4 linked regions of the Homo sapiens genome follow. The protein of the gene in region 4 interacts with the protein of the main gene of each other region in a pairwise test. Each region holds a gene or a part of one and is shown on either strand. Other genes may lie near its edges. The genes, in order: PFKFB4, SPATA2, TFIP11 and CCDC102B.

Region 1 (7,034 bases), on a different chromosome or scaffold from region 4:
CCTCTGGCCCTGGGGAAGGAAGGGGCCAGAGTGGGCCCTGAAGTGGGCAGTGAGGGCCGCAGCACAGGCTCTCTGGGGACTGGATTTCTCATAAGGACCAGCTGCTGCCAGGTCCACCTGCCTGGCCAGTCTCCTCCAGACTTGCAACGGCTGGGCTGGCCCTCCCCTTCCTTGGAGAGAATGCCCCAAGGAAGTTAGAAGGAGAGGATGCCTGTGCTCCCAGCAGGGGAGCAGACCCGTGGCACAGAAGAACCTACTCAGTGCTGCTCTGCACACAGTGGGCACTCAGTTTGTGTTTGACCAACAGGAATTGCAGTGAAACCAGTTAAACCTAGTAAACTGAACCTATGTTTATTTCTACTCCATCCTGACACCCCAGTAAAATGGGAACAGAAGGATAAAGAGAAAAAGAGATGACAGGAGAAAAAGGAGACAACAGGAGATGGAGACATCAACACAATTCTGTCAGAGAGATCCACGGTGACGGACTCAGAGTCATGTAGGAAACCAAACACAGGTGCTGGCCAACCAGAGCACACCACCTGTGCAGGACCAGAGCACTCCAGAGGGTGCAGTGGCATTGCTAAGAAAAGGGACAAAGGTGGGGACGAAATGGGAGGACTAGCTGGCTGATAAAGAAGAGCTGGAGGCCCAGGCCCCCTTCCCAACCCCATCCAGCCAGGCACTGACCCATCTGGAGCTCTTTGAGAAGTACCTGGGGCCTGCACAAGCATCCTCTGAGTAGCCTCCTGAGTAGCTGGGACTACAAGTGTGCACCACACCTCGGTTACAGCATCATTTTTTTGTTTTTATTTAAAAAAAATTTTTTTGAGACAGGGTCTCACTCTGTCGCCCAGGCTGGAGCGTAGTGGAGCAATCATAGCTCACTGCAGCCTCAACCTCCTGGGCTTAAGTTATTCTTTCGCCTCAGCCTCCCAAGTAGCTGGGATTACAGGCATGTACCACCATACCTGGCTAATTTTTTTTTTTTTTTTGAGACAGAGTCTTGCTCTGTCGCCCAGGCTGCAGTGCAGTGGCGTGATCTCGGCTCACTGCAACCTCCGCCTACTGGGTTCAAGCGATTCTCCTGCCTCAGCCTCCTGAGTAGCTGGGATTACAGCTACTTGTGCCACCACGCCTGGCTAATTTTTGTATTTTTAGTAGAGACGAGGTTTCACCATGTTGGGCAGGCTGGTCTCGAACTCCTGACCTCATGATCTGCCAGCCTTGGCCTCCCAAAGTGCTGGGATTACAGGGGTGAGCCACTGTGCCCAACCACATCTGGCTAATTTTTTTTTTTTTTTTGAGACGGAGTCTTGCTCTGTCACCCAGGCTGGAGTGCAGTGGCGCGATCTCAGCTCGCTGCAAGCTCTGTCTCCCAGGTTCACGCCATTCTCCTGCCTCAGTCTCCCATCTGCCTCCTGGGTTCAGGCCATTCCCCTGCCTCAGCCTCCCGAGTAGCTGGGACTACAAGCGCCTGCCACAACGCCCAGCTAATTTTTTGTATTTTTTTAGTAGAGATGGAGTTTCACTATATTAGCCAGGATGGTCTTGATCTCCTGACCTCGTGATCCACCCGCCTCAGCCTCCCAAAGTGCTGGGATTACAGGTGTGAGCCACCGCACCTGGCCCACACCTGGCTAATTTAAAAATTTTTCTGTAGACACAGAGTCTCGCTATGTAAGCTGGTCTCAAACTCTTGGGCTCAAGCAGTCCTCCTGCCTCAGACTCCCAAAGTGCTGGGATTACAGGCATGAGCCACCATGTCAGCCCAGCATCACTTTTTTAAAAAGGGCATCCAGCCAGGGCTCACTGGACACTCCAGCAAAACCTTTAACAAGAAAAACAGAAACTAAATCAAACAAACAAACAAAAAAAGAAATTTGGGCCGGGTGCAGTGGCTTATGCCTGTAATCCTAACACTTTCGGAGGCTGGGGCAGGCAAATTGCTTGAGGCCAGGAGCTTGAGACAAGCCTGCTCAACAAGGTGAAACCCTGTCTCTGTGAAAAATACAAGAATTAGCCAAGCATGGTGGCACGTGCCTGTAGTCCCAGCTACTCAGGAGGCTGAGGTGTGAGGATCACTTAAGCCTAGGAGACAGGCTGCAGTGAGCTATGATTGAGACACTACACTCCAGCCTGGGCAACAGAGCAGGACCATGTCTCAAGGAAATAAAAAACAACAACACTCATATACTTGTAAGATAATGTTGAAGAAGTCTTTCTCAAAACAAACAACCAAAAAAAACAGAGAAAATAAAGAGAAAGGCTGGGCGTGGTGGCTCACGCCTGTAATCCCAGCACTGTGGGAGGCAGAGGCAGGCGGATCACGAGGTCAGGAGATCGAGACCATGGTGAAACCCCATCTCTACTAAAAATACAAAAAATTAGCCGGGCACAGTGGCGGGGGCTTGTAGTCCCAGCTACTCAGGACGCTGAGGCAGGAGAGTGGCGTGAACCCAGGAGGAGGAGCTTGTAGTGAGCCGAGATCACGCCACTGCACTCCAGCCTGGGTGACAGAGCGAGACTCCATCTCAAAAAAAAAAAAAAAGAAAGAAAGAAAATTAAGAGAAAAAAGATAAAATCAGAATCTCAGAATCAAGCTAGCATGTAGCCACCAGAAGTTCTAGAAAAAGCAGCTCAGAAAATGGGAGTAGGGATGGAGTGAGTTGCCAGAAAGGGGCAGAGGTGATTTGTCAAAGAAATAATACATGACAATTTCCCTGACCTGGAGAACAAGAGTGTTATGATGAAAAGGGGCCCCCTAGGACCATGTATGGTGGAGAGAAGACCCACCACAAACCACATCACCTTGAAGACCCTAAAGGCCTCCCAAGCGGAAGGGGCATGAGAAACTCTCAGCTCCCTCTAAGAGATGAAGCTTTTAGGAAGATCAGCAAATCAGAATGACATGAGACTTCTCCACAGCCACACTAGAAGCCATAAGACATCAGAGTGATGTTGTAGAAGTTCTAAGGGAAAAGCACTTTCCACCTAGAAATTCTATACCCAACCATCAAATGTGAGGATTAAAAAAAGACATTTCAGATGTGCAAGGTCTCACACAATTTACCTCCCCAAGCACCTTTCTCAGGAAGTTACTGGAGGATGTGCTTCAATGAAACAAATCAGTAAGTCAAAGAGAGGATGATGTGGGATCCACAGGCAGAACATTCAACCCAGGAGAGAGAAGGGCAATGGCTGTGCTACAGGCACAGATTGTAGCTGGGGACAGAGAACTCCAGAAGGCATGACTCCAGGAAGAAGAAGGAAGGGAAAGAACAGCCCCTGTGTTTGACTATATAAGGCTGGGGTAGAGCCGTTTCCCACAGACACCCCAGTTTAGCCCTGTTCTGCTCTTCCGTCTGACTAGAAGGGCCAACACACAGGTGGAATCCCCTTAATCCAGGATTCAGTGGGTTCCTACAACAACCAGTAATGCTGGGCAGGATTCTCCCCACACCAGGAGAAATCACATTTACTAAAGACTTAGGCAACCTGATACCTGTAACTTCTGGGGTGGCCAAGAATACAAGCATCCAGAGGGAAGTCCTGCAGGGTCAAATGCGGCCACCACATGCCCAGAGGGAAACTCCTGGCCCATATCCAGTCTCTGGCTTCCTCCTGCATAGCTGTTGCAGACTTCCTCCCAAGGGCTGGCACCCAGAGCAGCTGGGGCACACACACCCTGCCTTCCCCTCCAGATGCCTGACGAGCAAAGGCACAGATGTGGATGGGCTCCCATGTGTCACTCCCAGCTGTCACCAGGGTGTCACACTCACCGCCACATGTCCCCCCTCCTCACTAAGGAACCGCCGGACGTCACGGAGGGCTGCCAGGGCACACTGCCTTCAGGAGAGAAAACACAGGGTCAGCCCAGCACCCGACCCTGGCTCCAGGAGGGTGGCCAGGGACACACAACAGGAGGAGACATGACAGGAGAAGGAACAGCCCCGAGGTCTCTTGCTCTCTTTTCAAAGTTTCCCTTCTCTTTCCTTAGGATAATGTTCAGTGTTTGGCTAACTCTGCTCCTGTGAGGTGGAAGGCTATACACTCTTGGCTATTAGGAACATTTTTTAAGCACTACGTTTCTGTATTTTCCCTCATCCTCTCATTGTGCACAAATCCATGCTGTCATTGTGCCACATTCATGATTTCTAATTGTCATATATTTTCCCTGATTATCAAAATAAGCCCCCCCCCGCCCGCCTTTTATTTATTTATTTATTTTTTTTGAGACTGAGTCTCGCTCTGTCACCCAGGCTGGAGTGCAGTGGTGCGATCTCGGCTCACTGCAACTTCTACCCAGTTTCAAGCAATTTTCGTGCCTCAGCCTACTGAGTAGCTGGGATTACAGGCGTGCACCACCACGCCCAGCTAATTTTTATATTTCAAAATAAGCATTTTTAAAAGCAGCCGTTTTCTTGTGTGCATGTCAGGAGTTGGTGGTGGGGATGGGAGGAACACTAGGGCTGGCCCTCGGGCAGTGTTAGGCTTAGTGCTCAACTTTCTTTCCTGAAAGAGAGTTCCCCAAACCACCCCTTCTGAGGGAGGGTTCTGCATCTCTTCTTCTATCATATCCATACCCTCCAGAATGGGAATCCCCCACCTATGACCAAACACTGACTATACAGTTTTCAGATCTTTTTTTTTTTTTTTTTTTTTTTTGAGATAAGGTCTCGCTCTGCCACCTAGGCTGGAGTGCAGCAGTGGGATCATGCCTCACTGCAGCCCAAACTCCTGGGCTCAAGCAATCTTCCTGCCTCAGCCTCCAGAGTAGCTGAAACTACAGGGATATGCCACCACACCTGGCTAATCTTTAAATTTCTTTTAGAGATGGGGTCTTGCTATGTTGCCCAGGCTTACACAATCTTTTTAAGTTCTCAGCTTTTTCATTTATTGCTGCAAAGTGGATTGACACAGAAGGTTTGTTTTTTTTTTTAGACAAGAGTCTTACTCTCTGTTGCCCAGGCTGGAGTGCAGTGGTGCAATCTCAGCTCACTGTAACCTCTGCCTCCCAGGTTCAAGCAATTCTTGTGCCTCAGCCACCCAAGTACCAGGGATTATGGGCACGTGCCACCACATCTGGCTAATTTTTGTATTTTCAGTAGAGATGGGGTTTCGCCATGTTAGCCAGGCTGGTCTCGAACTCCTGACTTCAAGTGATCTGCCCACTTTGGCCTCCCAAAGTGCTGGGATTACAGGCGCGAGCCACTGCACCCAGCCAGGATTATTCTCATCAATTTATCCTATGAGGTCTGGAGATAGATAAATTACCTTTTTATCTATTATCTTCCCTTTTTCTATGTAAGGGTAAAGCTAGATCTCCTAGCTTTGTGTTTTTTGTTTTTTGAGACAGAGTCTCACTTTGTTGCCCAGGCTGGAGTGCAGTGGCATGATCTCAGCTCACTACAACCTCCACCTTCTGGGTTCAAGCAATTATCCTGCCTCAGCCTCTCGAGTAGCTGGGATTACAGGCATGTGCCACCACACCCAGCTAATTTTTTGTATTTTTAGTAGAGATGGGATTTCACCATGTTGGCCATGTGGGTCTTGAACTCCTGACCTCAGGTGATCCACCCTCCTCAGCCTCCCAAGTGCTGGGATTGCAAGCTTGAGCCACAGTGCCCAGCCCTCCTGGCTTTGTTGATCTTTGGATTTTGTGTTTAAACTCCCAGCATGTCAAAGTCAAAGGGCTCTCATCAGGACGATATGCCTGAAATACAGCGGCAGAAGCTGATCTGAGAACCACAAAGAAATCAGTGGTAGAGCTGAGTCCAGGGCACTGAAAAGAGCTCTACTCTTACGGCTCCTTGTGACATTTCTTTTCTTTCTTTTGTTTTTTTTTTTTAAGAGACAGGGTCTCACTATGTTCCCCAGGCTGGTCTTTAACTCCTAGCTTCCAGTGATCCTCCCGCCACAGCCTCCCAAAATATTGGGATTACACATGTGAGCTACTATGTCCAGCCCTTGTAACCATTTCTGTGCCCCAATGGGTCTTCCAGTTAAAGCCTCAAAGTGCTTTCTTCCTCATGCCAAAAACATCTGAATTCTGAGAGTCCAGGTAACTGGCATTGGTAGGGACATTTCTCCTTAGAGCCCCACGTTCTGGGCTAAGATCTCTTTTGTGGGCTGCTCTGGCCATGACACCACCATGCAGGAGAGACCTCAGGGCCCCGGTGGAGATGCTGAGGGAAGAGCCTGGGAGCCTGTGTGTGTGCGTGTGTGTGTGTGTGTATAAGAGAGTGCAAATGGGGTGAAGAGATGCATATGTGCATGAATCCACACGTGTGGGTGGTTATGTGTGTGTTGTGCCCAAGTGTGTACATGTAAATCTGTGAGTGTACCTGTGTGAGTATTCCCTGGGCCCATGTATGAGCACAGGTGCACACACACGAGCGTGCACAACCCCTGTGTGCGGTATGTGACTAAATGGGCACAGGTATGAGTGAGTGTGCCCACATGTGTGCACACAGGATGTGTGTGCATGCACCCATGTGTATAAGTTTGTGTGTGTGTGTCCAAGCATATACAGAGTATGCATGTGGGGGTGACCATGTGTGTACACATGGTGTGTGTGTATACATGTCTTCATGTGCCATGTGACTGTGTGAGAACATATGCGATCATGCTTGGTGTGTACATGTGCACAGATCCACATGTGCATACAGGTGAACACAAGCGTATATGTGCCCACACACATGACTCTGAGGTATGCATATGTGTGTGCACCCACCTTCATGTGTAGTGGGTGACTGCATGTGTGTGGAAGAGTTAACACAGCAGGTATGAGAATGGTCCCCTTCGAAAGGCCTGCTTGTGAGGTTGGCCCTTGGCCAGGGTTGGGGAACTTGATGGTAAACAGTTCCCTCTAGTGATATGAAACTTTCCCTGAATTATAAGAGGAGCTCACTGTGCATAGACTGTTTATACAAACAACATGGTTTATGTTGATTATCTGCTTTCCTTCTGGGAGTCTGGAATTTTGGTACATGCTAGGCACAGGGTGCCTATATGACCAGCCCCCAGTAAAA
Region 2 (7,378 bases), on a different chromosome or scaffold from region 4:
TTCTTGACTTATCTAAGAGAAGCTGCCATCACGCCTCTGGCCCCAGGGTCTGTTTTTTGGTAGTCTGAGAACCATTCAAACACAGAGACATTAAGCTTCCGAATACTGCTGTAATTTTTCTCCAAGGAAGTCAGCCTTGAACTCAAAGAGACTGATTTTTTACAAAGTCAGCCAGTCTCAAGCTCGGCTCAGCGTCTGCTGCTCTATAATCGCACCACAGTCCACACCCTTGTTTGTTGCTGAAAAACAATAAATAAAGGAAAGGGATCCAAACAGCCCAGCTGATGTTCAAAATACTCACAATAAGGACAGGAAGCCTATCTAAAACAAATCTCAAACCAACCTGGGTAGGTGAGGGAAAAGGCGGAAGAAAGTAAAAGCTAAAAGATAATTAAGGGCAAGACAAGCCTGGACAACATAGTTAGACTCCGTCTCTACAAAAAAAAAAAAAAAAAAAATTAGGTGGGTGTGGTGACACCCACCTGTAGTCTTAGCTACTTGGGAGTCTGAGGTGGGGGGATCCACTGAGCCCAGGAGTTTGAGGCTGCAGTGAGCTATGATGGCACCACTGCACTCCGGCCTGGGTGACAGAGCAAGACCTTGTCTCAATCAGTCAATAAGGAAAGGAAAGAAAGAGACTAACAATTACTGAGGTTCTACTATGTGCTAAGCATTGGGCTTCCCACTTTACCTACATCATCCCATTTAATCCTCACAACTCTATAAGGAAAACAGGCTCTTCCCATTAAAACAACCTGCCCAACAGAGTTTGAAAGGGTCAGAGCTGGAATCTGAACTCTTGCTGGGAGGCCCTTGATGCCTGGGCTTTCTCCAATTTACCTCACTCATTTATTGTTACATCAGTACCATTTACCAAGGGATTACTGTGTGGCATCCCTCTGCTAACTGCTCTGTGAAAACCAATGAAATCCACAGGATAGATCCAAGGTTAAAGAGGAAACTGAGGCTCGGAGAGGCCAACTCACTTACCCTAAGTCGTAAGGCTAGGAAGAAGTGGATCTGAGCTCTGAACCTAGGTCTAACGCCAAAACTCCGACTCTTGCAAAGCCATCCTGCTGCATCTGCTGGACAGCTCTACTCGAAAGTGTTTGGCTAAGTTAGAATGCCTTATGGCGGCGCGAGCAGAGTTGAGTTACAAAAATTCCTGTAGTAGCAAAATTCCCATCTTCCCACACCGAATGGGGCTAGGAGAGCTAATCTCTATATGATGTAAGCTCAAGGGCCAAGGAAAGAGGCTGGTCAGAGACATCGGCCAGTGATGAAGCAGCTGACATCATCCCTGCTGAAAACATTTTCTGAGAATACAAGATGCCTTGTAGCTGGTCATAGCTGGTGTTTTTTCTGAGCACAGAGCCAGCAATTCATTCCCAGCACTCTGCAAGAACAACAAAATACGCTCTCTGCAAAAACATCGTGGTTACAGGAGACCGAGACAGCCCAGCGACAGAAGCTGCTAATTTCTCCAAGCAACCCAAGGATTGGAACGCCAAGCCGTGCCAGTCTGGTGGAAAAAAAAAAAAAAAAAAACCCAAAAAACAAAAAAACAGCACTGTGAATATCCTGAACACAGAGACAGGCAGGTGCCCAGAGTCAACGGCTCCAGTCAGCACCTCCTGCACCCACAATCTAGGTACCTTCTTGAAAAGCAAGTCAATGGAAAAAGAGATATTGCACAGTCAGGGAGCCAGTGGCTTCTTTAGTTATTTTTTGAACATCTAAGAGGAAAGCTGTATCTGTTTAGAGTCCCACTGCATGGAAGTGAAGTGATTCCGAGTAGCTAAGCATTAGCTTGGCTTTACCTCAGCTGGCCCATTCAAGCAGAAATGTTCCCCAAGCAGCATTTGAAGGCGCCCCCTCTCTGCACAGGCAGACCTATTTTGGTCTGTGCACTGCCCCTGTCCACAGGTTTACACATCCCTGGTCTAGCTCCATCAGCCTCCAAACAGGAGACGGGGAAGTCAGTTCAACCCCCTCCACCTCCCCACCCACACCAATGCACTCGTTCCAAGCAAGAGGCTCCGAGAAACATCCAAGGCACCTTCCACTGGCTGTGAAACACCAGAAGGTCCCCACACTCCTACTAGATTCCAAAGAAATTCACACAGAGTCCTTCCAAACCTCTGAAAATAACCTCAGCGGTGCTGAAAGAAGCTTCCCTAGTGGCAGCTGCCTCTCTCGGAGAAGCTCTGAAGGAAGCTGTTTCCCTCCCTGCAGGGGACAGAAGCTGGCGGCTGCTAAGTCCCAGCTCGGTCATTCCTACAGCCTCGGGGGGCCACGTCAGTTGTGAAAAACAGCCCAGTCTCAAATTCTGGCCCCCCCTACGGCTTCGTGAATTGAATGAAGTAACAGGAACTATCACTTATTGGACGCCTGCTGTATGCCAGAGGCCCTGCATGATCTCATTCCATCTCCACTCCAGCCCTAGCAACCAGGTTCAATCACTTAAATAGGCAACTGAGGCTCTTAAGATGAAGTGACTTATCCAAGGTCACACAGTGAGTACAAACCCAGGTGTGCCGCCAGAGCCTGAACTGGGAACCCCTGCGCGGTAACTGCCTCGTGGCGAAATCGGGGTGTCCTTCTGTTTGGCCAGTCGCCGAAGAGGGGTGTTCCTCTTGGGCGGCCCTGAGCCACCCTCGGCGGGTCCCAGGAGCCTGCGAGGCAGCTCCCGGGAGAATGGGGGTCCTGAGGATAGGCTGGGGGTCCCGGGAGCGCCGAAACAGCGGGCCCACCTGTAGTCCTGCCTGCCGTGAGGGTACCCCGCTCCCGGGCCAGCCGAGCCCTGCCGCTGTCTGGCGCCCCCTCCGCCTGGGGAAGCCCCGAAGGCAGTTTCCGCCCGCGGCCGCCCGTCACTCACCCTGACACTGCCGCCGAGGACGGCCCGGCCGAGGGAAGCAAGCGAGAGGCGCGGCTGCCGCCGGAGCCGGGCCCCGTCGGGCTCTAGCCTCTCCGGCCGGCTGCAGGGGTACTGAGACCAGTACCCGGGGGCCAGCAGCGACCCGGAAACACTCGGCCCGGAAATGATGTCACCATGAGGCGGGCCCGAAGAGAGGGTGGACCACGGCTGCGCGCTGGCTCCGGGAAGCGGTCGATGCCCGCGGCCGACGGAGACTACAACCCAGAGGCGGAGGACAAAGCGGAAGGCCGAAGAGCGAGGACGAAACCGGCGGAACCGCACTTTGGAGCCTAACGAGCCATCGCTGCGTCTGAGACTGGGACCCGGAAGTAAACAGGCCGGACGTGACGCAAGCCGCTCGGCCTAGGGATGGTGGCTGGCCGGGTTGTCATGGAAACCGCTCAGGAGCAGGGAGCTGGGAGCTATGAGTGCTGACTGCGTGAACTCGGCCTCCACTTCCCGGACCTGCCACTTATCATGATCCACGAGCTGTACTCATGACTCCGCACAAGCAAGCAGGGGCTGACGGTCGGATCCCTCGCCCCCATTTTACGGACAGAAGTACCGAGGCTCAAAGAGAGCCAGTGAGATGCTGAAATCACGCGTGATTGGAATCCAGCCTTGCTAGGGCTGCGGGTGTTACGGGCCGTGGGCGGCGGTTAAGAGCGTGGGTTCTATTTTTAGTTTTGCCACTTACTAGCTGTGTGACCTTGGACAAGTTACCTAACCTCTCTGAGCCTCAGCTTTCTAACCTGTAATATTAAATAATAAAGCCAGGCGTGGTGGCACGCGACTGTAGTCCCAGCTAGTCGGGAGGCTGAGGCGAGAGGATGGCTTGCTCCCAGGTGTTCGAGACCAACCTGGGCAACATAACGAGGCCACGTCTCTTAAAAAAAAAAAAAAAAAAAAAAAAAAAAAAAAGCCGGGCACGGCGGCTCACGCCTGTAATCCCAGCACTTTCGGATAAACTATATATATATATAATCTGACATCCCCACCAGACCCTGAGCTTCTTATTCATCTATTTCCCCCCGAGCTCTGCACATGTCTGATGAGGAGGCACACAACAGATGTTCATTGATTGTAGGATTCTCACTCTGAGTCTTGGTGACCCCAGCTAAAACCGGTGGGGCTTGTGTGATGAGTCAGTGACACAATACTGGGAAACGTTTGGAGAACCAGCAATCTGCTGCTGTCCAAACAGTAGCATTACTGTGTTTACCTGTCGTTGCCTGAGCACCGCTCAAAGTCCCTGTGTTCTTTATCAGCTCATGTTTAAGCTCCTCTCTTAATTATCTGCAATGTGATGATGTTCACAGGAATTCCATCTGAGACAAACTGTCCCACCTTAAGTCTGCCTCTTACAGCAACTCAGCACTCTGGTTTGGTAGCTCTTACAATATTGCATTTTCACGTGGGGCTGCTTAAAAAAGTCCCCTCCAGCTCTGTGGGTCTATGACAGGCAAAAGAGAAACAAAGATTTTGAAGAAGGGCTTTACCAGTAGGAAACCCTGGTCATCATCTACTATCAGAAAAGACCCAAAGTCTCCAAAGACAGTCACATTTCTCAGTTTTTTTTTTTTTTTTTTTTTTTTTTGAGACGGAGTCTCGCTCTGTCACCCAGGCTGGAGTGCAGTGGCACAATCTCAGCTCACTGCAAGCTCCGCCTCCTGGGTTCACGCCATTTTCCTGCCTCAGCCTCCGGAGTAGCTGGGACTACCGGCACGCGCCAACACGCCTGGCTAATTTTTTGTATTTTTAGTAGAGATGGGGTTTCACCAAGGTGGTCAGGATGGTCTCCATCTCTTGACCTCGTGATCCGCCCACCTCGGCCTCCCAAAGTGCTGGGATTACAGGCCTGAGCCACTGTGTCCGGCCATGTTTCTCATCTTTTAAACACAGTTGAAGGCTTGTGATTTCTCTACTTGGTGATGTAGAAATGACAGGAGCGTCCTTTCCCGACTTTATTATATAATGATTACCAGATTATGTAAGGGTCACGTGACAATGATTAGGCACTTCTACTTCCGAAGAGCCAACAACACGAACAATCTACCTACCTCTTTCTATTTTTTAGTTTTTTTTTCCATCACCAAAGTAATACATGATTCCAACAATACAGAGGAGTATAGAACAAAAAGCAAAACAGAAAAGCTACCCCATGACCCAGCAATTGGATTTCTCAAAATCTGCTAGAGAAACATACACTGTGCCCAAAGAGACCTCTTGCATCATTGTTTCTAATGCAAAAGCAATAATAGGAAATATTTAAATCTCCATCACTGGGGTAATGGTATATCCATACTAACAAATACTGTGGATCACTTAAAAAGGGTGATGCATGGCCAGGCGCGGTGGCTCACGCCTGTAATCCCAGCACTTTGGGAGGCCGAGGTGGGCAAATCACGAGGTCAAGAGGCCGAGACCATCCTGGCTAACACAGTGAAACCCTGTCTCTACTAAAAATACAAAAATTAGCCGGGTGTGGTAGCAGGCGCAGTAGCGGGTGCCTGTAGTCCCAGCTACTCGGGAGGCTGAGGCAGGAGAATGGCATGAACCTGGGAGGCAGAGGTTGCAGTGAACCGAGATGGCACCACTGCACTCCAGCCTGGGCTACAGAGTGAGACTCTGTCTCAAAAAAACAAAACAAAAAAAGTCAACTGGGGACAGGAACACAGATACAGATATCTGTCTTTCATTCCACAAACACACATTTATGTGATCTGTATTAATATCTTTCTCCCCCAGAAGTCAGTGAACTCCATGAGGACAAAACTATGTCTGTTTTGTTCACAATTATATTACTACTACCTGACATATATGCACTACCTAGCATGCAATAGGTTGTTCAACATAATTTGTTTCTGACCAGAATTTTCACTGAATACCTACCATGTGCCAAGTTTGATGTCAGATTTTTTTTTTTTAATTGAGACAGGGTCTCTCACTCTGTCACCCTGTCTGGAGTGTAGTGGCATGATCATAGCTCACTGCAGCCTCAACCTCCTAGGCTCAAGCGATCCTCCCACCTTAGCCTCCTGAGTGGCGGGGACCACAGTTGCACACCACCACATCTGGCTAATTTTGTTAACTGTTTTGTAGAGGGAGGGTCTCGCAATTTTGCCAAGGCTGCTCTCAAACTCCTGGGCTCAAGTGATCCTCCCACCTTGGCTTCCCAAGGTGCTGGGATTACAGGCATGAGTCACCATGCCCACCCTGATGTTAGGTTTAAAGGGCATAACTGTGAGTGAGACAGACACAGTTCCTGCCCTCACAGAGCATCCAGTCTCCTTAACCGAAAGAGAATATTCATAACATAGGAGTAGGATTAATAAAACCCTAGAATTCAGGATAGAAGATGGTAAATGATATGAGAGGGGTATAGAGCTTAGAGCATGGAGAAGTGACCTCTGACAGGGTAAATGAAGGATAGCCTCCAGGAGGAAGTAGCATTTGAGCTGGGCTTTGAGTGACCTGGACATGTGAGGCTGTCCAGCTTTCCTTCCAGCTGGAGTAAAGGGAGCAATCAAAGGCAAGGACCTGAGATCAAAAACTCGGCTACCTGTGGCTGGGCTCAGTGGCACAAGCCTGTAATCCCAGCAATTTGGGAGGCCGAGGCAGGCGGATCTCCTGAGGCCCAGAGTTTGAGACCAGCCTGACCGATACAGTGAAACCCCATCTGTACTAAAACCACAAAAATTAGCCAGCCTGTAGTAGTGCCCACCTGTGGTCCCAGCTACTCAGGAGGCTGAGGCTGGAGAATCGCTTAAATCTGGGAGGTGGAGGTGGCAGTGAGCCAAGATCACGCTACTGCACTCTAGCCTGGGACACAGAGGGAGACCCTGTCTCAAAAAAGCAAAAACAAAAACAAAAAACAAAAACACAAACTCAGCTACCTGCAAGCACATAATGTGGGCAAATACGAGGTACTAGAGTACTATAGCCTCACACTGCGTAGGACCAGAAATGAGTAATGTAATCTAACATGGTACCCGGCTCACAGTAGGCATCCAATAAGTACTTCAGTGAGAAAACAAATATTGTTGAATTCCTTCCATGCTTCAGCTGACTTGTGGCCAAGATCCCCACTCACCAGGAATGACCAGATACTCTGATTTTTGGAGAGGAGTTAGAGATCCAGATTGTTTGTTTATTTATTTATTTAAAGATAAGGTCTTGATCTGTCATCCAGACTGGAGTACAGTGGCATGATCATGGCTCACTGCAACCTCAAACTTCTGGACTCAAGGGATCCTCCCACCCCAGCCTCCCACACAGCTGGGACTACAGGCTCATGCCATCATGCCCAGTTAATTATTTTCTGAAGACGTGGGATCTTGCTGTGTTGCCCAGGGTGGTCTCAAACTCCTAGCCTCAGGTGATCCTCCCACTTTGACCCACCAAAGTGCTGGGATTACAGGCACCAGCCACTGCGTCCAGCCTGGAATCCAGATTTTTAAA
Region 3 (7,000 bases), on a different chromosome or scaffold from region 4:
TTGAGAGTTAGGGCCTGCTTATTTATCTTCATTTTAAAGTTAGAAACAAGGTTTTGTGTGCTTAAAAAATCCTTTACATTGCATTTCTAAGTTTTACATGAGGTACATTTAAAAGTAGTATAGTGCCTGCCCATAGTAGATGCTCAATAAATGTTGTTTCGTTTATCTTTATTTTTGTTTCTCCCTCCCATCTGGTGTACCTGCCTTCTGAACCTCATTATTTGTAAGAGGGCGAATGGGGTCAAGGAGTATCATTAGATAGTTTTGGTGTCTTGCAGGTGCATCCTTTCCTTCCTTCATATAGAGCTTGTAAATAAATCTAAGACAGTGAATGGTGACATCTGCTAATGGTCTCAGCTACCTCACCTGTGGTAAAAAGTGGTTGTTCCTTGCTGCATCTGACTGTATTCTTCTGGTTCAGGAGTTTCAGAAGGAGCTGAGCCAGTGGAGGAAAGACCCAAGTGGAAGCAAGAAGAAGCCCAAATACTCTTACAAGACCGTGGAAGAGTTGAAGGCCAAGGGCAGGATTAGCAAGAAGCTCACTGCTCCCCAGAAGGAACTTTCTCAAGTCAAGGTACAGGGGCCCTTGGACACCTGGTACAGGATCCACACCCCAGAAATAATCACTGAACATGTTCGAGGGTTTTTTGGATCTTTTAGCTAGGCTTTTTTTTTTTTTTTTTTTTTTGGTACCTTGCTTTTCTCACTTATTTATAGGAGTGTAATGAATAGGAACATGCTCACATAGTATTAATATCATGTTCCTATTCATTACACTCCCATATTTAGTAATAGTTACCAAGTTCCTTCTCTGCTAGGCACTCTTCACGGCACTACACTGGTAAACCAAATGATGTTCCTGTGTTTCTGGAGCTTACATCAGTGAATTTAATAACATTCTTGTTATTAAAAACTCAGTGCAAAGTGTTTATAATGAGCACGTAATTCCAGAGAGTGGCTGTGCTGTATTATTTGATCCTACCTCCGTTGTTAGACATTTAGCTTTTATCTGGTTTAGTTTGGGTTTTTGGCTGGTTAGTTTGTATATAAAACTTTGTCTTTGTTTCAGACATTTTTTAAGGATAGACATGTACATGTGCAATCACCATGTTGAATACAAAAGTACTTAAGGCATTTAAATACTCAGAAGGTTGTATTAACTCTCTCTGACCAGGAGGGCAGGAGAGAGTCCCCAGGGCTCCTTAGCCAGCATTGAGTATTTTCTTTTTTTAAGATAGATTAAATTTTCAGCCACTGTTACGTCCATGTAGTGTATTAAGTTTTCCATTACTTGGCTGGGGATGGTGGCTCACGCCTGTAATCCCAGCACTTTGGGAGGCCTAGGCGGGCAGATCACAAGGTCAGGAGATCGAGACCGTCCTGTAACATGGTGAAACCCCGTCTCTACTAAAAATACAAAAAATTAGCCGGATGTGATGGTGGGCGCCTGTAGTCCCAGCTACTCGGGAGGCTGAGGCAGGAGAATGGCATTTACTCAGGAGGCGGAGCTTGCAGTGAGCGGAAATCGTGCCACTGCACTCCAGCCTGGGGGACAGAGCGAGACTCCGTCTCAAAAAAAAAAAAAAAAAAAAAAAGTTTTCCGTTACTTTTCCAAGTAGTCAAAGAACAGTGGTGACAGTTGCCTGTTGTCATTTGCTGTAGGATATGTAGTGTGTCATAGACCTCAAAGAAAGCCTTTAGTGGGGTTCTCAAACGTGCTGTTATCTGGACGACCTGATAAGAAATAAGAGTGTCTAGGTGCCTCCCAGGAATTGAGTCTAGACTGAACCTCAGGACTCTTTTTTTTTTTTTCCTCCAGTGAGTCTAAAGCTGGTGGTTCATGGATCACACTCTTACTTAAAAAGTGGTGATGAATCATTCTGTTTCAGAAGTGTAGTCCGTATTCACATTTCCTGTTTTCCTAAAATATTGGAATTAGCTCATTGTCTAGGTTGCCTTTGTTCAGTTAGCCTTTTGTATATTTTATTTTGTTTTAAAATTAAAAGGCTGGGCGCAGTGGCTCATGCCTGTAATCCCAGCATTTTGGGAGGCTGAGGCAGGCGGATCACAAGGTCAGGAGATTGAGACCTTCCTGGCTAACACAGTGAAACCCCATCCCTACTAAAAATACAAAAAATTAGCCAAGTGTAGTGACGGGCGCCTGTAGTCCCAGCTACTTGGGAGGCTGAGGCAGGAGAATGGCTTAAACCCAGGAGGCGGAGCTTGCAGTGAGCTGAGATCGTGCCACTGCATTCCAGCCTGGGCAACAGAGCGAGATTCTGTCTCAAAATAAATAAATAAATTAAATTTAAAAAAACTTTGTTATTACACAGCAGTGTGTAGTACATTTTAGAAAATTAGGAAATAGGCAAAAATGTAGAAAATATTTTCCATCCTTCCAAGATTACCAAATGTTAACATCTTGTTATACATCCTAGATCTTTTTCTATGCTTATGTGCATTTTTTAAATCAAAATGTGATATTCTGATTGTATGTTACCTTCTTTGATCAGTACAGCTTCTACCTTTCCATTAAAATAAATTTTCACATCTACTAATACTCAGTCCCTATTTAAATTTCATGTTTCCCTAAAAAGTCTTCTCCATCTGGCTTGTTCACAGTGATCCAACCTAGAACTGCTTGCTGCATCTGATTTTGTCCCTGGAGTCTCCTTTAGGCTAGGACAGTATGGTTCCCACTTTACAACACTGCCCTTCTCCAGCTCTGTTGAATAATGTGGTTTCTACACACTTCCCCTGTCATGGGGCCTTCCCCTGGGCTTAGCTGTGTGTTTAACAGGGCTGCAGCGGTGTTAACCTTCATCCCTCTATGTTTTCCAAGGTCATAGACATGACAGGCCGGGAGCAGAAGGTCTACTACAGCTACAGTCAGATCAGCCACAAGCACAACGTTCCCGATGATGGGCTGCCGCTACAGTCCCAACAGCTGCCACAGTCTGGCAAAGAGGCCAAGGCCCCCGGCTTCGCGCTGCCCGAGCTGGAGCACAACCTGCAGCTGCTCATCGACCTCACGGAGCAGGAGATCATCCAGAATGACCGGCAGCTACAGTATGAGCGGGACATGGTGGTCAACCTCTTCCACGAGCTGGAGAAGATGACCGAGGTCCTGGACCACGAGGAGCGGGTCATCTCGAACCTCAGCAAGGTCCTGGAGATGGTGGAGGAGTGCGAGCGGCGGATGCAGCCCGACTGCAGCAACCCCCTCACCCTGGACGAGTGTGCCCGCATCTTCGAAACCCTGCAGGACAAGTACTATGAGGAGTACAGGATGTCCGACCGTGTGGACCTTGCTGTGGCCATCGTCTATCCACTCATGAAGGAGTACTTCAAGGAGTGGGATCCCCTCAAAGTGAGTTGCTGGGAAAATCAACCTATCCCTGCCTCTCGGTTGGGCTTACCCTTGCTTGATGAGTTGGTTCAATGGGCAGGGAGGGCTGGAGAGCCCGCTGCCCCTCAACTGCTCACCTTTCTCCTCAGGACTGCACTTATGGCACCGAGATCATCTCTAAGTGGAAAAGCCTCCTAGAGAATGACCAGCTCTTGTCCCATGGCGGACAGGACCTCTCAGCAGATGCCTTTCACAGGTACACCACAGAGCAGGGCTCTGTACCCCAGCTCCTTTCTCCTGGGGGGTTGGGAAGGATTGCTGAAGGTGGGGGAAGGCAGCAGTGCTGGCCTTGATTAATTCTCTGCTCATGCTGACAGTGCTTTAGGAATTTAAATTCATTTGGCTATGAATTTTTTTTTTTTAATTTTTTTGAAATGTTTTATTTCCATAGGGTTTGGGGAACAGGTAGTATTTGGTTACATGAGTAAGTTCTTTAGTGGTGATTTGTGAGATTTTGGTGTACCCATCTCCTGAGAAGTATACATTGAATCCAATTTGTAGTCTTTTTTTTTTTTTTTTTTTTGAGATGGAGTCTCACTCTGTCACCAGGCTGGAGTGCAGTGGCGTGATCGCAGCTCACTGCAACCGCCAACTGCCTGGTTCAAGCGATTCTCCTGCCTCAGCCTCCCAAGTAGCTGGGATCACAGGCACACGCCACCACGCCCAGCTAATTTTTGTATTTTTAGTAGAGACAGGGTTTCACCATGTTGGCCAGAATGATCTCAATCTCCTGACCTCGTGATCCACCCGCCTTGGCCTCCAAAAAAATGCTGGGATTCCAGGCGTGAGCCACCGTGCCTGGTTCAATTTGTAGTCTTTTATCCCTCACCCCCTTCCCATCCTTTCCCCGAGTCCCCAAAGTCCATTGTGTCATTCTTATGCCTTTGCATCCTCATAACTTAGCTTCCACTTATAAGTGAGAACATAAGATGTTTGGTTTTCCATTCTTGAGTTACTTCACTTAGAATAATAGTCTCCAATTCCAACCAACTTGCTGCGAATGCCATTATTTCATTCCTTTTTATGGCTGAGTCATATTCCATTATATTTATACCACAGTTTCTTTATCCACTTGTTGATTGGTGGGCATTTGGGTTGGTTCCACATATTTGCAACTGCGAATTGTGCTGCTGTAAATTTGTGTGAGCAAGTATCTTTCTCGTATATGACTTTTTTTTTTTTTTTTTTTTGAGATGAAGTCTTGCTTTGTCGCCAGGCTGGAGTGCAGTGGCACGATCTCGGCTCACTGCAACCTCTGCCTCCCGGGTTCAAGCGATTCTCCTGCCTCAGCCTCTCGAGTAGCTGGGACTACAGGCGCTCGCCACCATGCCCAGCTAATTTTTGTATTTTTAGTAGAGACAGGGTTTCACCATGTTGGCCAGGATGGTCTCGATCTCTTGACCTCGTGATCCGCCTGCCTTGGCCTCCCAGAGTGCTGGAATTACAGGCGTGAGCCTCCGTGCCCAGCCATGACTTCTTTTCCTCTGGGTAGATACCCAGTAGTGGGATTGCTGGATCAAATGGTAGTTGTACTTTTAGTTCTCTAAGGAATCTCCACACTGTTTTCCATAGTGGTTGTACAATTACATTTGGCCATGAATTCAGCTGACACTTGTCAAATGTCTGTTGCGTATCATGCTTGTGCTAGGTGCTGGGCTTACCCTAGGAGCACAGCAGACAGCCTCTGTCTACAGTACAGCAAAAAAAGCAGATGGGAAGTAAGGTAGTGAACAAATAAAGGCAGGATGCACACCAGGTACAGCGATAGAGAACTGCAGGAGCAACCTACTTGGAACGGGGGTTGGCACAGAGGTCTTAGGGGAGGTGACGTTGAAATTGTGATAAGAGGGTGAGAGGCATCAGCTCATGAATAGAAGCCTATAGGTGGGAAAGCACTTGATACCTGGGAAGAGGCCCTTGTGACCCTAAAGCAGCTCTGCCAGGTGGATGGGCACTACCTAGGAGACTGAGGCCTCAGATTGAGAGGAGAGTCAAGAGAACAAGGAAGAGGCAGGCTCAGTCTGGCCAGTATGGTGACTGGCCTGATGGTTTCCTCTGATTGGATTTCCATGCTGTTGCATTTTTATTCCTGATTCTAGAGAGGCAGGTGGTGGTGGTGTACTTTGAAACCAGTCAGTGTAATTAACCAGCCTGTCCTCTGCCTTTCTCCCATAGGTTGATATGGGAAGTCTGGATGCCTTTTGTTCGAAATATTGTCACCCAGTGGCAGCCAAGGAACTGTGACCCGATGGTGGACTTTTTGGATAGTTGGGTGCACATTATTCCTGTGTGGATCTTAGATAACATACTGGACCAACTCATCTTCCCCAAGCTGCAAAAGGAGGTGGGATGAGAGTCATGGGAAACAGTCGTCATCACTAATCACAGGGACTTGTTCAGTCTGTGGCTTCATTATCTCAGTGCTGTTAAAACGCCTGGAATTAACGGAATTTGTCAACACAACTATTGACCTATAGTGTTAATTCCAGCCTTTTTCTCAGCACTTTTTCCCCCAAGCCACCCTCAGGAGGGAATTCATTTTCTTGATTTTGTCACTAAAATTAGAATTGTGCTGTTTCTGAGATGTAATCAAATGGATGGGCATATTTGTTTGGCAATGTACAAAGGACTGTGGGCCTCAGAGAGCACAGGGCCTCCTCCAGGGGCAGCTCTTGCCTTTAGCCACACAGGGGTGTTATGTGACTGCCCCACAGGCGACATGAACTGTTTCTCCTCCCCACTTCGCAGGTGGAAAACTGGAACCCGCTCACAGACACTGTTCCCATCCACTCTTGGATCCACCCATGGCTGCCCCTTATGCAGGCACGGCTGGAGCCACTCTATTCCCCCATCCGTAGTAAGCTGTCCAGCGCCCTGCAGAAGTGGCACCCCAGCGACTCCTCTGCCAAGCTCATCCTCCAGCCCTGGAAGGATGTCTTCACTCCTGGCTCCTGGGAAGCATTCATGGTCAAAAACATAGTGCCCAAGCTGGGTAAGGATAAGGGGAAATGCATTCCAAGCCCAGCAGCTTTGGTGCCCTGGTTTCTGTGGTTAGCAGTGATGATTTAAAGCATCGCCTTTATGTTCATGAAAGTGCTTAGTACACAATATTCCTTGCTGTGAAAAAGGTAACATTTTGTTCAGAGGCTGAACATAAATGTAACTTGGGTCCTTTCCGCTGTTTATTTACAACAGTCACTAATAGTCGACAGTGACAATATCGGACTCTGTGCCTTGTGGTTTTCCCGATTGGTTTTGGCTTCTGGTAATAGGACAGCCATTGGAGTTCTAAAATTTTTGTGGTATTTTACTCTAAATTATTAGGGAGTTATTTCCAGGTTAGCAAAAAAAATATATATACATACACACACACACACACACATATATGTATATATATACACACATGCATATACATGTATATATACACATGTATATACACATATATGTATATACACACATATATATGTATATATGTATACACACACACACATATATATATGTGTATATATATACACATATATATTTTAAGAATCGCTATGTCGGGAGCTTAAATTTGACCTTTAAAAGCAGATTACAGCCTGAGCAACATGG
Region 4 (7,034 bases):
TCACTGGGAAAGTTACATCTATAATATGAAACTTATAGATGAGTTTGTAATCTTGAGAAGGAAAAGACGTGGAATCTTAAGAAAAAAAAGTTAGCTTTTGATTCGAAGATTAGTTGCTCAAATCCTAGTGAAACGTTCATCCCTGCTCATATTTTCTCCATGTTAGCCAAAATAAATTAGTAATTTATTCAGACATAGAGGCCACCAACTCTGCAATCATCTTTTTTTTTAAGTGTTTATATTTCTGGTTTTCATCCTTTGACATAGGAGAAGGTAGCAATAAAGAAAATAAAAAATTTAACTAGAAAGTAGAATCCTTAACACAACTGCTGATTGATCTGGGATCCGTTTTCATTTGTTTCCTTTCATTTTTGCATAGTTGTTTGTCTTAGTAAAGACAAGTAAAGGAATTGGATTAAAAATGTCAAAATAACAGGAAGTGAATACTCAGTGTTTGTATTTCTCAAAAGATCTGTCTTTCCAGTCCCTAAAACAGAAAATGGACGCCATGTGCAAGGAAAGCTGCAAAGAGTGGAAGACCAGATTAAACTCTTACATTTCTCAAAGCTTGCTTGGTTTTTATTTTGCCTCCCAATCATGTAATTATTGTCTTCAACTCTTTCCCAAGTAATTCCTGTAACGTCATATCTTAATTCTTCCTCAAAAACTCTATTTTTTCCTTGTTTTTCTTAAATATCTCATGATTTCCCAGATCTATACATTGCATTTAATTTATAAAAAAAGAGAAAAAGTACTAAGAATTGTGTGGACTCCTAAATTGAGTTTTATCATTTTTATCATTGCCTGATTTTCACACCTGTTAAATTTTCTTAAATTAGTAAATTTTCTTAAATTATAGCAAGCAGAGAATATATTGGTCCCAGTTGTTTCTAGAGGCCACCATCTTTAACATACTTCTCAGTATCAAAATAACATAAGTATGTAAATATGATAACATGAGAGCTATAGTAGAACCCAGAGAACACTGGTTCAGAAAATGTGAGGTAAATTCTCTTCCTTGATAAGGTCGTTCAAACTCATATGTGTTCCCCCTTTCAACAAGGAGATAAATACAATGCCTGAAATGTATTCTATGGTTGCTATGAAGATATTTTTGAACCGTTTATATTCTGGAGTATTAAACCTGTGCTGTCTTAAATGGTAGTCACCTATCAGATGTAGTTAGGGAACGCTTGAAATGAGGGTCGCCTGAATTGTGATGTTCGGTGAGTACTAATTAAACACAGCATGAAACGTAAAAATGTAAACTATCTCATTAATAACTTCATACTAATTACATTTTGAAGTGATATTTTTGAAAGATTGGATTAAATCAAAAATATTATTAAAATTAATTTCACATGTTCATTTTTTAACTTTTTAAATGTAGCTACTTTAAATTGCAAATGTTGCTTGAATTATATTTCTATTGGACAAAATAGCTGTAGAGCATCCAATAGACTTTAAGAGCTTCTCTTTTTCCACAGAGAATTTTACAGAAATAGAAAACTGCATTCTGATTTTTTTCAAACATGTTCAGAATGTTTTGGCAATATTGCTGTCTCTAACACCTAGAGGTTTCCTAAATACAGGAAATTAAGATAATTACTAATAATATTACTTGCAAATATATGCTTGAAAAACATATTCTACTGATAATAAAAATGCATACCAAAGTAGCCTGCTATTCAAAGGTAAGTGAATGTGACATTCTCATTCTCTTCCACATGGCCACATAATACAGAAGAGGTGATGTTGCAATAATCATACAAAAATAAAATGAATATCATTTTAAAAATTGGATATGTTTGCTGAGCATTCTTATCTAAGCTTTGAGACATCCCATTAAAATATATTTAAAGCTGTTTAGACAACATGGGAAAAAATAATTATTAATTTTAAAAATGTATGTCATTGTTAAAACAGCAGTTGTAAATAAAAACCTAAAAATAATATTAATTCATGTGTTCTTAACATTATTAATACATATAATTTTATTTTTATCCAAAATTTTGGCAAAATGATAAACACATAAAAAAATTATGGGCTTGTAATCTGCTGTATTTGAAGGCTTCTTTGTCTTGCTTTGATCACTGGCTGAAGATTGCTCTTTAATACAGTCTGTAGGACTGATCAAAATGTTACATAAGCAGAGAGAAAAGTAAATGAGATCACTGACAACACTGTAGAGTCTTGGCATGGGAATGGGTATTAACATTTATATAATGAAACCAATTATGTTAATAGGTTAGGAGAAGTTGAATATGTTTTCAGGGACAAGAAAAATTTTCATGTCCAAAGTATTTCATATATAGTGTCGTTACAACATCCTCACCTCTCAGTTCCTATTAATTCCAATAATATGACCTCACCCACTCACTGGCTGGTTATGCACCTAGATCCCATTACCATACTAGCATTTCTTTCCATATCAATGATAAGCACCTCTCTGATTACCCTTTACTATTGTCCCCATAACTCTCTTTTTTGACCTAGCTATGGCCTCCTGTCAATGGACTGTATTGTTTTTTCTCTCTTCCTCATCGGCTTCACATCCACTCTCTCCTCCCTATTCTGTGCTCCAGTTTTAACAAATTGCTCTGAGCAAGCTTGGCATTCTCTTGACCCTACTTGCTTAGAAACTCTAATGTCAGTGAATCACAGCTGTCTTCCTGCTCCATGTCTGCACCTACACTCTTGATCAGGCTTTGAGAAAACACACCCATTGCTATCTGGTCTCACTTCAGTTTCTTGACTCTGAACCTCATATGGGCTTTAATGTAGCCAAGCCAACTCTACCATAGGGAAATTAATATTTTTCCCTGATTAAATCACAAACATTCTACTGAATAATCCCATACATTAGCTATCTTCAAAATTTTCATATCTTATTCAGCTCTGCCTTATCTGTTGAGATTGCGGGGGTTTTTCTATTTCACTTACAAAAGATATGTAATTATAAGACAACTGCCATCCACTGGTTCCATCATATCTATGTGTCTAATGGATACCCATATGTTATTCTGTCTGTTTTTATAGAGAATTACTCCACGTTCTTAACACCAAACTTCCCATTTGTATGCTCTATCTAATTTCCTCTAATCCGCTCCAGGACATGGCCTCCTCAAATATACTCCTCTCCTGTTTAACTAGTTTGTACCTCTCTCTAGATTAGATTATTCCCATTAGCAAATGCACATGCTATAATACCCTCAACATAAAAAAAAAAAAAAAGATTTTGATCCCAACCCAGCAGCCATTCCATATCTTTGGCATTTTCTAAAATAAAAATTATTTTAAAGACACTTTCATTTATCTCATTTTCTCTTGAAGTCGCAGTATCATTTTCAACTCTAGTTTGCCACAAAAACAGGAAATCAGTGACTTCTACATTGCAAATCTAATGGTCAATTCCAGGCCTGAAATTCCTGTTTTACTTGGCCAACCAGAAGCCCTGTATGTGATTGTCCATTTCATCATTCCCTTTCTTGGCTTCTGAGGGCATCCTCTCTCATGGTTCTCCTCCTACTCCCTGGTAGCTGCCCCACATTCTGTCTCAGCTTCACACCTCTGACTGCAAGCGCTCCAACACTGAGACTTCAGGCTGGGGTAATTGCTCTGGGTGAAGGCATCCAGGCCTTTGACTTCAAATTCATTAATTTTCTGAAATTTCCTAACAGACATATCTCTGGCCTGAGATGTTCCTTTATCTCTGGGATCTCACGTGTCCAGCTGCCCACTTAACATCACTAAGGATATCTAATCAGCATCTCAGATTTCACATGTTCAAAAACAAACACTTGAACTCCCCTCACATCTACACCTGCTCCTCCACAGTGTTCCCTGTGTCAATAAATGCACATTTCACTCTTCTAGGTTTACAGACCAAACTTAGGGGTTACCCTTGATTCCTTTGTCTCTTCATTGCACATCATTGTTGGAAACTCCATCAGTTCTGGCAGGAAAATATGAAATACAGCCTATGCAGAATTACAAAAACTCCATCTCTAATATCTCCTTCAAACCACCCTGTCTCTTGCCTGGAATACTGTATGGTATCTGGCCTCCCCACTTCTACCTTTTCCCTACTCCAGTATGTTCTCCACAGCACAGCCGAGTGGATGCTTTGAACACTCAACTTATGTTACAATATTTCTAGGATCCCAACATTCAAATGACTTCCCATCAAACTCAGAATAAAGTGGTTGTAGTTTATGATGTTGTCATGATCTAAACATAAACCATCCCTGAACTCTTCATCAGGACCCATGATTTCCCGACCTGAGGCTCCTACAGTTGGGGTATGAAGAGCCCTTTTAAAAGTAAAATAATATTAGGTTGGTGACCATGTAATTGTGATTTTTCCCATTGAAAGTAATGGCAAAAAATGCAATTACTTTTGCACCACCCTAATATCTTGAAGCTTAAGCTGGATTTACTTCCTCTTAAAGTAGCTTCTGCCTGTGCCTCCCTGCCTCGCTCATTCCCAGCAGCTGCCGGCCATCTGGCCATTCCTTGAAGGGACATTCTTCTGACTTAAGACTTTAGCACATGTGATTTCCTTTATACTTCTCTTCTGCCAAGATTCCTCGTGGTTAAGTATCTTACATCCTTCACCCTAACAGAAGGGACATTCCCTGGTTATTTCAAGAGTGTGTAAATATTCTATTCCCTTTTAGCCTGAATGTTCTTTTTTTCTTCCAGTACTTATCATGACTTAATATATATTTATATACTATGTATGGATTCTACTGCTTTACCAGCTAGACTATATGCTTAATGTAAAGAAAGGGGTTTTACTTTTTATTCACATCTCTATTTCCATTGCTAGAACAGTGTCTGAGACATGGTAGACATTTATTACTAAATGGACAAATCTAAAACAGAGTGACTTAGAACTATTCCTTTTCTTCCAAAAGGCAAGCATTACAAGTTCCACTAAATAAGTCAGTCTTCTCTAAAGAAGGTGGCTTTTAGATATTAAACGCTTATAGGCTTTTAAAATTAATAAAGAAACAGTTTTAAGTGAGGTTAACCCCAATCACACCACTTTAATTGCTATCAGCAACTTCATTCTTCCAAGTACTTAAATAATTCACAAATACACCTATGATGATTATCTGTATATACAAAAGATGAAGATTTACATTTATTTGGCCAGAAATACTTTTGAAACAGCGTGGAAAGTGGATAGGATATTTGGGAGAACAAAGCCATGTATCCCTTTCAGAGATAAGAGGACCAAGGGGTTTCAAAAGAATCAGCAGATGGGAGGTGGAGTTTGTCTTCTGCACTATTTCTACTTCTGATATCGTTTTGGATAAAGATCTATGCTTCTCGAATATGTCATTTATATTAATTCAGATAAACATCCTGCTCAATAATATGGAAGAAACTTATAGCCACAGAGGAAACAATGACGGCCAACCATAGACAATGAATGGACCATGTGAGGTCCAGGACCAGAGCTTTGCATTCAGTACCTATGCTTAGGCCCCAGCCTTCTGTGAGAAGCCTGTATCTGAGATAGCCCTCCTAGTTCTAATCCATGAATACTGGAATTTCTCCCATTAATCTACATTATCAGGTCAAATTTATTTAGTCCTGATACCAAAAACATAAAATATAAAAACATATCAAAAACATAAAAGCCAGCAAGTAAATTCATATAGCATTAACACCTTTAGAGGGCACTTGTAGCACGACATAATTGCAACATCCATGTTTTTAATCCATGCAATCATAAATTCTATAACTTAAGTTTCATTATTACAAAAAGAATGAAGAAGCCTGGGCAGTATCAAAAATAGGATGGCAGGGACTCTACGTAGTTGCTTTGACCCAACTCATTCCTACCATTGACAATACCTGTAAAGTGATTTCCAAACAAAGATAGAACAAAGCTCACCTGAACCCTCAGACAATCCCTGAGATTATTCTAGCTCCAAATTAGGAACAGGTTATAACCAGAACCTTCTAGAATTATATGAAACACCAATGGATTATGGCACTTCCACATCTTTCTCTTTTTTCCTGTGCTACCAAATGTTATAATCCCACTGAGCACCTTATAATTTTCATGTTTTATTGTGAAATACATTTTCTTCTCATCCAGAGAAGAAACGCTTGTTCAAAACCCTTCATGTCAAAAGAAGATAGAAAATTCATGAATATAGGCTGACTAATAAGACTATTTGATCTTTTGCAGAGGTCATAAATGTAATCTTTCACCTAATGCCTTCACAATCCTAAATTCACTAAGGGAGGAAAGGAAAGATTGTATGAAAGACTCTCAAAACTATTTCCAAATGAAAATGAGTCTAAAGTTGCTACAGGTTTTTCTTCATGCAACTATTGCCTCTTTACCTGTGTTATATTTCCAAACGTTTACTGCAGCTTAGAAACATATGCTCCCGAGTCAGTGACTAAAAATCTCACTTTTATTTTTGGAAACTTTAATTCTACAAATTTGAAACAGACACTATGATAAGATATATTTATAAATTCTTCAGTGAGCATATGTTTTTTTTCTCAATATTAAGGACACCTTTTTCTTTAGCTACTAAAAAAATCCTTCTATCAAAATTTTAACATCAAATATTTTAATATATTTATGACACACAACAGCAATTCTTTTAGGAAATATCATTAAATATAAATCAACTTGGATAATATTTAAGTATATAATAATGTTAACAGTCCTTTGCAAAGCTATGACTACAATTAAATGGCCTTGAGCACAACCTCCAATACAATATCTAGTTTTCCATTTTACAATCAAGGTCTCAAGCTCACAATCTCCATTGAGCATCTACAATTAGTCAGGGCACTGAGGATGGAGCACTAGTTATACAAAATGTCTTCTATAGAATATATTCTTAGAATGCAACCTAAACCTGTACAAAAATAAAATCTCAAGGTCAGTGACCAAATCTTTGCATTTCAACTATCCTCATCTGTTTTCGTGTACGGCAAAAAGATACTCCTTCAGTAAAGCCTACTTAATGATAGTATGATTCTAAACTAGTAGGCAG

What was found.
Region 1: the proteins of CCDC102B (region 4) and PFKFB4 interact in binary tests that used the Homo sapiens proteins (3 or more experiments, as listed by UniProt).
Region 2: the proteins of CCDC102B (region 4) and SPATA2 interact in binary tests that used the Homo sapiens proteins (3 or more experiments, as listed by UniProt).
Region 3: the proteins of CCDC102B (region 4) and TFIP11 interact in binary tests that used the Homo sapiens proteins (3 or more experiments, as listed by UniProt).

The regions. Positions count from the first base shown.
Region 1 is NC_000003.12:48,539,798-48,546,831, forward strand, and holds part of PFKFB4 (6-phosphofructo-2-kinase/fructose-2,6-bisphosphatase 4), read right to left. Parts: intron 3,850-7,034; coding exon 3,783-3,849; intron 1-3,782. UniProt on the Homo sapiens protein: Synthesis and degradation of fructose 2,6-bisphosphate.
Region 2 is NC_000020.11:49,912,502-49,919,879, forward strand, and holds the start of SPATA2 (spermatogenesis-associated protein 2), read right to left. Parts: upstream 3,029-7,378; 5' UTR 2,879-3,028; exon of another isoform or gene 2,529-2,878; intron 1,202-2,528; exon of another isoform or gene 991-1,201; intron 461-990; exon of another isoform or gene 1-460.
Region 3 is NC_000022.11:26,495,474-26,502,473, reverse strand, and holds part of TFIP11 (tuftelin-interacting protein 11), read left to right. Parts: intron 1-421; coding exon 422-574; intron 575-2,842; coding exon 2,843-3,370; intron 3,371-3,498; coding exon 3,499-3,605; intron 3,606-5,584; coding exon 5,585-5,753; intron 5,754-6,157; coding exon 6,158-6,401; intron 6,402-7,000. UniProt on the Homo sapiens protein: Involved in pre-mRNA splicing, specifically in spliceosome disassembly during late-stage splicing events. Intron turnover seems to proceed through reactions in two lariat-intron associated complexes termed Intron Large (IL) and Intron Small (IS).
Region 4 is NC_000018.10:68,801,065-68,808,098, reverse strand, and holds part of CCDC102B (coiled-coil domain-containing protein 102B), read right to left. Parts: intron 1-7,034. UniProt on the Homo sapiens protein: During interphase, forms fibers at the proximal ends of centrioles to maintain centrosome cohesion. During mitosis, dissociates from the centrosome following phosphorylation to allow centrosome separation. Contributes to CROCC/rootletin filament formation.